Linked DNA regions of Homo sapiens: region 1 is linked to region 2. The links come from fine-mapping of genetic effects on gene expression. Tissue or cell type: whole blood. Region 2 holds a variant in brackets; the other region holds the start of a gene. All regions are shown on one strand. Distances are from middle to middle.

The links. PIP is the estimated chance that this variant, and not a neighbour inherited with it, causes the effect.
Region 1: PTPRO starts here. The variant in region 2 is fine-mapped to the expression of PTPRO in whole blood (TOPMed, PIP above 0.99).

Annotation. Positions count from the first base shown.
Region 1 is chr12:15,319,993-15,324,992 of GRCh38, forward strand. PTPRO (protein tyrosine phosphatase receptor type O) reads left to right here and starts at 2,516. Exons shown (of 27, transcript NM_030667.3): 1 at 2,516-2,809. The coding sequence starts at 2,735. All of the region lies in intron 2 of LOC105369673 (a long non-coding RNA gene), which reads right to left.
Region 2 is chr12:15,572,544-15,577,811 of GRCh38, forward strand. The region is part of intron 19 of PTPRO (protein tyrosine phosphatase receptor type O); the gene reads left to right. Among named protein-coding and RNA genes, the nearest start is that of EPS8, 210 kb to the right of the region's middle. The variant T/C (reference allele first, on the strand shown) is at 2,768.

The sequences.
Region 1 (5,000 bases), 250 kb before region 2:
ACAAAGACAGAAAGAGCTGAACAAATTGTGATGTATGACTAAGAGAAAAACAGAAAGACGCAGCAGAATATGATTATTTAAAAGGGAGCCTCATTGTGAAAGTTCTTTTAGCATTTACAAGATTAATTTATGATCAGAACTGCTTTAAACGCCCTACGCACATCAGGCAAGGCTATATCCATGTATACACACAGACATATGCATACACACAAATGAATATCATCATACAGACCCATAATTCACAGACACATTTTAAAATTAAATGCTACTCCAAAGAGAAATTGTTGGCATCCTGTGAGTGTGATTGTTGCCCTTGGCCTATATATATCTTATGTTCTAGAGATTAGATCACTTTACAGCCACTTCTGAGGGCGAGTGGGAATAAAATGCTGCTTCAGGAGCGTCAAAATAAAAAGAAAACATATTAAACCAAAGTTCCTATAAGTGCAATCCCAAGGATTAAATGTTCAGATAGCCCGTAAGTCTAACCCAGAGGGAGGGAGGAGCAGTTAACATTTTCTCAAAAGAAAGAAAATGTCCAAACCAATGATGAGTGGACATGAGGGACCTGAAGAGAGCATGTGATGGGAATGTGAAAACAAAAGAAGCTTCTAAAAGAAGACACCAAGGATAATATTCTCACAAAAATTCAGACCATCATTCTATATTTTCATGCATATGAATTTTGGTACATATTTCATGCATATGAAATTTGGTACATATATACATATATGTACCATGCATATACATATGCGTACATATACATATACGTATGCATACACATATGTATCTATGTACACACATACACATATGTGTACACACATATGTACATGCACACACATATGTGTACACATATGTACATGCACACACATGTGTGTACACATATGTACATGTACACATATGTGTACATGTACACATGTGTATATATACATATTCACACTTATGTAAACATATTCAATCTAAAGCTTCCTTAAGACACATACAAACAACAACCAAATGATTAGTGTTTGGCCATTGCTCATGCAGCAAAAGCTGAGTAAACACAGCTCTGGATCCTTTTCTCAGGCCACCACTCCCTAGCTGTGTGACTGACAAAGTCTATGCCTGAACACCTACATTCATGACCAGGGTGGCCTTTCCTGTCTCCTGTTGCCCAAGCATGTCTCAGGTATAAATAAGTTCCAATACTGACAGGGCACAGCAAGGGTAATTTACATGACAATAAGAAATGATTTCTATCTGAACAGTGCATACCAGAGTTGATTTCGACAGACTTATCTTTAAAAAAATACACATAACAAAAAAGGAGACAAGTAGTAGATTGGGGACCCACAGCTTGAAAGTCGTTGCTTGTGATTCTAAAACATCCCAGTAAAATTATTCACAGATAATTGTTTAAAAATATAACTGTACATACCGTTGACACTTGGACAACACAGAGAATCACGTAGTTGAAAATCCACATATAACTTTGAACTCATCAAAACCTTAACTACTAATAGCCTACTCTTGACCGGAAACCTTACTGATAACATAATAAACAGTTGATTAACACACATTTTGTGTTGTATGTATTGTATACTGTATTCTTACAATAAAGTACGCTAGAGAACAGAAAATATTATTAAGAAAACCATAAAGAGGAGAAAATACATTTATATTCATTGAGTGGAAGTGAATTATCATAAAAGTCTTTAACGTCATCCTTTTCAGGCTGAGCAGGCAGAGGAGGAGGAAGAGGGTTTGGTCTTGCTGTCTCAAGGCTGGCAAAGGTGGAAGAAAATCTGCATATAACTGGACCCAACAGTTCAAACCCGTGTTGTTCAAGGGTCATACATGTAAAATACTGTGATTTTTCCCCCTTCTATATTCAGCTTCAGGTGACCCGACACACTTTGGTATCAAAAGAGAATCTGAAATGTACAAGAACTGCGGATTTCAAATGGAAAAGGTGCATAATTGTGCTATTTGTTCCTGGGTGAGTGTGGGACGGAGACGGTGAGAGTGTTGAAATGGGATGGAGATAATGGAAGCAGTGGGGAAGGAGAGAAAATACCCTTCCTATCACACACACTCACACACTCACACTACACACTATTTCTACAGTCACAACTACCCAACTGTTATTGATCCTTTATAACTGCAATTGAGTACAGATGTAGGAAGATTGAGAGGGAACTGGGATCTGGCGCCTGGATTGCTCAAGAGAGGTCAGGGAAACCCCTCAGAACTCCTGAGACCCAGAGATTGAGGGAGGGGTTGAGGCGGAGTCTGCAATGGGGGCTGTCCAGCAGTAGCAAGCAGCGGGCCGATCCTGGTGGAGGGTTGGGAGGCTGCTGTCATTTTATGGGTCGGCAGCCAGAGTGAGAGTGTCCCTGCTGCCAGAGGACTACGGCGGGCTGGGCGCGGGGTCCCCGCCTCTCGCTCACCACACAGACCCCGCGCCTCCTCTGGCAGCCGCGGTGGTGGCGGCGGCAGAGCCTCGCCCACTCCAATCCCCACCCTCTCCATCCTTAGTCATTAAAGAACAGCAGCGCCTGGCACGTTCTTGGAGGACCCCGGGCGCAGAGGAGGAAAGGGAGCAGGCGCAGGGGGACTGGAAAGGCAGCATGCGCTCGCCAGGAGCAACCTCGGCGCCCAGGGTCTGAGGCTGCAGCCCCAGTTCGCCATTGTGAGCCGCCGCCGGGGGAGTCCGCTAGCGCAGCCGTGCCCCCGAGTCCCCGTCCGCGCAGCGATGGGGCACCTGCCCACGGGGATACACGGCGCCCGCCGCCTCCTGCCTCTGCTCTGGCTCTTTGTGCTGTTCAAGGTAGGGGAGCTCCTCCACCCCTTTTTCCCAGCGGTCCGGGCGGCAGCCGCGCTCCGGCGCCCTCGCTCTGCCGTTGGGAGCGGCGCGCCCCAGGGCACGATGGCCCAGCCGCGGGAAGCGCCTGCCGTGCAGCCTGGGCGCACGCTTTGTTGTCCTCGCGTGTGCGTGTTCCTGGTGGTCTTGAGAGGTAGGGGGCGGGGGGAAGAATAAGGGAAGTTTGCTCCCTCCGGCTTTCGCCCTTTGTGCTCTTTTATCGCTGCTGAAATCCACATCAAAGGTGGGCTTGTTGGATCGTGCTTTCTCAGGCAAAATGAGGTCACTTTCTTTTCTGGTTTCCACTGCACCCCAACGCTGCTTAACCTTTCCGCCCTCCCTCGCACAGAATGCTTTGTCTTAATTTTCCTTACTGCTGGAATTATACACTGGAGAGTGGAGGGGGACTGAGCTCCCTGGACACAAATGGACTGCCAGGGCTACGTTAGGGCAGAATTTTCTTTGAATAAGGAGTGTCAGGTAGAGAGCTTGGTAAGGATTCCTCTCCCCAACTCCTATCAACATCTTTACAATTCCTTTTAAAAAGTCTCCAGACTTTCTCCACTATATTTACAGATGATATTACCCCTAGATTTAATGGTGGAAAAATATATAATAATAAACTTTTTCGTATCTTCTTTGGAATGTGCTACCCTGAGGTTTTACTTTGAGAAAAATGAAAAGCAAAGGAGTTGCTTTTGAAAAATCAGTTTGACAACTATACTGTACATAAATTTTTTTGAAGAAATGTCAGCTAGATGTTTTCTTGGACGGCGATGTGAAGTTCTGAAGTGATTGTCTATCACTCATGTCTTCAGTGGATCTACTTTAGTTCTGTTGTTAGTCTTTTCCTCTCTCCGCAAAGCAAACTCAAGAATGTCGACAGGTGACTTGGAGCTATCCTTTCAGGACCACAGTGATACCTTCCCTAGAAATGGATGCCAGGTTAATGGATCCAAAGGTTTTCTTATTATAGAGTCACTTCTTGCTTATATGCACCATTAATTATGAATGCCTAAAAAGAATATAATGGAACAGGACCAATGGATTAAGAACAGCATTACTTTTAAATACTCCATATTTTCATTTATCTTAATGAAAAATATAAAAAAAATTCAGGGAGAAACAGCAACAGAATGCCTAAGTAAGACCTTAAAATATATTTAATATGTTTTAACATTTTTTCTTAAATTATCAATAATCATTAATTTTAAAGTATGGTAAATAATAAGCTCAGTTATATGTTTTTACTGTAGGAGGTTGTTCTTTCATACACATCATAAATGCATTAGACTTATTAGGTTGTCTATTAGTCGTTTTCTAACTATTTATCAAACTGTCACAACTATTTTACCTATGCAATAATTGTCATGAACCAAAAATTAGAAACCAAGTCACTATGCATTTTACGAGCAACAGCTAAGAGTTATATGTATGACATCTGATCCAAACCTAACGTTTAGCACAACTGCAGGTTTTTGCGTGAGTTCTTCATAATGAGATAATTCCAGAAATAAGAGAATGACTTGGTTGGGAGTGGGGGTAAGGTTTTGCAATTAAAATAAAATAAATGTGGCCATTGTTTGACTTAAAACTCGATATTGGAATGAGAAAATGCAGTTAGTGATGGTGTAATGAAAATGTTAGTGATTGTCATAGAGGTCCAGCCTGCTTCACATAATAGGTATATTCCTGAACATTGCAGGTAAATGTAAATTATGGCAAACTGCTTCCATAGTAAATACATTGGCAAAGTTTGCCATTTAAATAATAATTATTGTAGTGGGACACATAATTTTGTAAGAAAAATCATTTTCCTTTATTTTATGTGAATGTAATATTTTTGTCACCTGAATATAAACTATATCAGAGGAAAGAAGAAAAAACTGTATATATTAAATACCTTCTATGTGCTGGTTTTTTAGGCATTTTACATACGTTATTTCATTTAATCCTATTTTGCTGCAGTTGACAAGAGTTGTTCAAAAAAAATGGTAAATTGGGCACACAGTGTAATATCTTACATTTAGAGGATAGTATATTACATGGTGCGTTGGGCACATGGTATAATCTCTTTATAATTTGGAGATATTTTTGAATTAAAGGTCCTGATTAAGTGCCAGTAAAACAGATCTACTCAAGCAGGTTGTGACTGGAG
Region 2 (5,268 bases):
TATAATCTTCATCATTTTGTTACTGATTTCTAACAGCTGATTTATGATTAAAGAGGTTAACATTTTGTGAAGGGCTGAAAATGAAATACCATTTTTTTCTCATTTTTTTACATTGGGGTTTTATTTGGAGTTTGTACAGAAGTTGTGTATTTAAAAAATAATCATGTTCTGCTTTTTTTTAAGTACATTTTCTCATCACCTTAGTTTCTTTATGTATAAAATGGGTGAGTTGAACTAGATCAATGGTTCTCAACTGGACAAGTACCAGTCAGCCCCCAGATGAAATTTGAAAATGTGTGGGAGTGTTTTTGGTTGTTATAATAGCTTAGGAGGAGGATGCTAACAGTATTTTATGGAAGAGGGACGAGGCGTTAAATGCTCTTCAATGAGTGGGACATTCCCGCACAATAGAGAATTGTCCTAGGCCGAAAGTGTTTGATTGAGAAATATGGGTTAAATATGGGATGAGGCTACAATCAAGCTTTATAACCCATGTGTATTAGTCATGGGTTCTCCAGAGAAACCAATGGGATGTTTATATAGAACAAATATGATGTATATATAGAGAGATCTATTTTAAGGTATTGGCTTTTGAGGTTATGGAGGCTGACAAGTCTGAAACCTGAAGGGCAGGCTGGCAGGCTGGAGATCCAAGGAAAAGTTGAGTTTGCAGTTTTGAGTTTGAAGGCAATGGGGAGGCAGAATTCCTCCCTCCTTGTAGGACCTGTCTCTTCTCATCAGGCCTTCAAACTGACTGGATGAGGCCCAGCCACATTACGTAGCATAATCAGCCTTCCTCAAACTCTACTTACGTAAATGTTAATCACATATGAGAAAAACACCTTCACAGCAGCAGACTGGTGTTTGGCCAAGCAACTGGACACTATAGCCTAGTCAAGTTGACGTCTAAAATTAACCATTACACCACGATTTTAAAGTCTTTAATATTGTTATTTATTCTGATGCTCTCTTCATACATTTCTATTCTTAGAACATTATTGGTCATATATGTAATTAATTGGGTGGTAAGTCCTGACATTATTTACATATTCTGGTAGGAAAATACAACTTACTCTCTAGGGCTCTGTTTTAAGTCACAGGCTTAGACTGTATGTTTTGGACTAACATTTGCTCAAGCAGTGGCCCGCTGGTCCAATTTACTTCCTTCTTCATTTGACAGACTTCAGATATTACCAGTCCTCAGTCCCATTCTGCCCCCTACATCCTCAGGGTCAGCGTCAGGGTTTCCTCATCAATTTTCATAGAAGTAGTGTGCTCCCATGCCTGATTTCAGGATGTATGCTGGACCTTTCACATGGCAGCCCTCACATTTTTTTGAAATACATTGATAGTTAATTGAGACTTAAGGAAAAAAATGTTCCTAACTCTAATGAGAATTCAAGAGGGTATGAGATGGCCAAATCACCTTGGTCTAGATAATTCCAGCAGCTGAACTTGTACTTGTTCTGTTTATATTAATGCCTAGTATTTGTATTCATTTTGATACTGACATTGAAATATCACATTCACATTGAGAAATCACATCATTTATAAGCATTTTGCAGATTGAAACTAATGTCTGGATTTATAGATACTACCAATACAGCCATAAGTCATACATGAAGCTATATGAGTTACTAATTTGTGTTTACTGAATAAATTTCTTTTTTACTCTGAATCTGATTTTAAATCTGCTAGAAAGATTGATTATCCTTCTGATAAAAATATACACCGTTCCTTTAAAAGTCTTGGGACCCAGGGATTAAAATAGGTTCCTCATTTTTTACATTTCACATGGGAAAGATTTTGAAGAACCAGACTTTATAGCTGAAATGTGAGAGCCCAGAAGACATATCACATATTGCTCATTCTGCTATTAATGTCTGTGCTTAGTGTTTGATCAGGATACTAGTAAAGGCCCTCACCATCTCTGTTCAGACATGTGGCTGCAAAGATCAAAACAAAACTACAGAACTGGCCATGCAGTTCACAAGAGGTGACCTTTGATTTCTGGTAGTAGCTTTTACTTGCTATAGATGGAACCTCTTCTGTCAACACCACTGGCACTTTCTTTCTCCTCACTTTTTCCACCCCTTATGGACACGTAATCTAGTAATCTTAGTATTGTTTGAATAAACCCCCTTTCCTTTAGTCTAAACTAGTTTGAGCTATGTTTTTGTCACTCACAACTAAAATAATGTGTTTACTGGAAAATGACTTGTTGGATTTTTTGTAATCATGCGATTCAGAAACAGTAATAGTTATGCTTGGGTTTCAAGACATAATGTCCACCCTATCCCAAAGCAAACACCGAAAGCAAACTCTCACCTGCTGACATTGTTACAAACCCTAAGACCAGAATGCAGATTGTGCTCTCCTCAGAAGATGATATTGCAGGTTATGGGCTGAATATCTGTGGCCCCCCAAAATTCCTATGTTTAATCCCTAACCCCCAATGCAATGGTATTTGGAGATGGAGCCCTTGCTAAGTAATTAGGATTAGATAAGCTCATGAGGGTGAGGACTTCGTGGTAGGATTGTTGCAGGACTTTTCCTTAGTTCAGCTAAAGATGAGGTCCTTGTCCATCCCACAGCCATGAAAATTTAGGTTCACAGGCAATTTGGAGGGTGAGTAAAACAGGGTTTTATTCGGTGAAAAGGAAGAAAAGGGAGAAACAGGGACTCTCACTAGGCTGGAGTCCCTGCTAGAGCACTTCCCACTGGCAGCTTGAATCTCAGGTTCCACACAGGAAGAGGAGAGGCCAGG[T/C]TCCTTCCCCACTGCAAACATGGTGAACTTCCCGAGGCTCCACCTCTGTGAGCAGGCTAGTTGGAATTTCTCCAAGGACCCCCTCCCACCTGACTGTCTCAGGATCAGCCAAGATAAGATGCCTAAGAATGAAATCTACCTTGTTGCCATCTTGATCTTGGACTTCCCAGCCTCCAGAACTGTGAGACATAAATCTCTACTGTTTAAACTATCACTCTATGGTGTTTTGTTATGGCAGCCCAAGCCAACTAATGTAATGTATATGCTTGTGCTTTGCTTTCCAAGACCTGTATGCTTCAAACACAGCCAACAAAACGTAGCCTGCTACTGGGTTTGGGTGACCGTATTAGTTCCTATGGCTGCCATAACAAATTACCACAATTGTCGTGGTTTAAAACAACAGAAACTTATTCTCACAATTGCAGAGCCAGAATTCCAAAATCAAGGTGTCAGCAGGGCCACACTCCCCCTGAAGACTCTAGGGAAGAATTTTTCTTTGCCTCTTTCAGCTTCTGTTGGCCACAGCAATTCCTTGGCTTGCAGCTGCATAACTCTGATCTGTCTCCATCTTTACATGCCTTTTCCTCTTCTCCAGGATGATCTCATCTCATGTTCTCTAACTTAATTACAACTGCAAAGACACTTTCTCCAAATTAGATCACACTCACAGGTTCTGGGGGTTAGGAGGTAGACGTATCTTTTTGGGGATCACCATTCAACCCACTACAGATGACTGTATAGCCTAGAAGAAAAGGGTGATAAATTATATTTAGAAACAAAACTGACAAAAGAAAATTCAGAAATGATTTATGTGGGTTTCAGGTCCATCACTCCATAGTTTGTCTTCATAAAGATTTAAGCCAGTGGAATTTCCATATGGTTGGAAAGAAAATAACTTCAAAGCTGCTGAACTGGAAACTTAATATTTTATTTTCCACTTAGTGACAGGCTAAATTACAAAGGCTTCAAAGCATACTGTGTTTACATGCAGTTCCCACTTTGCTGCAATTCAACTTTGGCAACTTCCACTTACAGTGTTCAGCCAATTAAACCTCTCTTATCAACTTAGAGTATTTACAGCAGGAAGGCAACACACAATTAAAGTTCTGTCAGTTAGTCAGCTTCCACAATTAAAGTTCTGTCAGTTAGTCAGCTTCCACATGTGCTCAAACGCTCAGCCTCAATCTGTTTCCACCATTCCTTTTGTATCTGAGGCCTTTTCCCATGGCTTATCAGTCTGTCCCCAAAGCAAGAGAATTGGGGGAAGAGTTGTTGGTCTGCTGGCATAAATGGCAGAGGAGGAAGAAATTATGGAGCCAGGCAAAGCAAAACAAAGAATCATCACAAAAGTATTTTACAATGATCATCAATAGTGCTGTATTAGTATTTGTTGAGTTAAATTATTCCATTTGATAATCACTATAAAAAAGGAAGGTGTGGAGAAATTACTAGCCTTATCTTACAGGTAATTAAAGCAAAGTTTAAAAGAGTTTAACTACCCTTCCAAGAACATACAGTTTATAAGTGGCATGTCAGAATATGTGAGATATTTTGAAAAAATATCTATGCAGGCATTTTCTAAAGGAGGTAGATTTCTGAAATAATTTAAGCAATGGAAGCATCATTTAAATAAACTTATAACTACCAAAAGGAACTAACCTAAACATCACACTGATTTAGTTGAAATTTACTAAAAATAAGTTGCTTCTTACAAGAAAAATAGAGTCAACCTTTGAATACCCTTTAAAATGGAACACTCAGTTATAAAATAACAATGGGAAGCATCTGCCTAAATATATTTGGCAAGTAAGTGCCTGAGATGGAAAAAACCAATTTTGTGAGTTGAAAATCAAATGTAACATAGTTTGTATATAAAACTGACATCAACTTAGTCCAAAGAACTTCAGATATTGTCATCTTGAAAAGCCAAAAGAGATGAGGAATCAAAGGAAGAGAGAAATCTGGGCAATTTTTGTTGGTTCATCCATGTTGGCTACAGTCAGGCAACCCAATGCCATTAAGCGCAAGGTAATTTGCCACCAAGGATCTTCTAGTTAAAAGCATCAGAAGACCCAATAACTTGATTAATAAAGCATGTGCTTTGCAAAGAGCACTTGAATAAAGACACAAAGGGCATGAAACAGATATCCCTATTCAATCCTAGAACGTGGTCAAGTGGCTCCAATTCTCTTCAACAGTGTTAAAAGACCCTCCGAAATTCTTCTCCTAGGGAAGTATTCCTCCAGCTTTGATTCCTTGAAGTAATAATTGGGAGGAATTATGAAGAGTAAAACTTGTGCTCAATATTAACATTCTATAAATGTAAATAAAATTTATAACAAGTGATTTTTGCCTCGCTTAGTAGTCTTATAGAAAGATGCACACTATGTGGGTAATCCCACTTATACACAGTTATGTACACTGTTTACTAACATTCCTCTAACATTTGTATAGGAATATAACTAGATCCACTGCATTGGTTGCACATTGTACAACTCCAG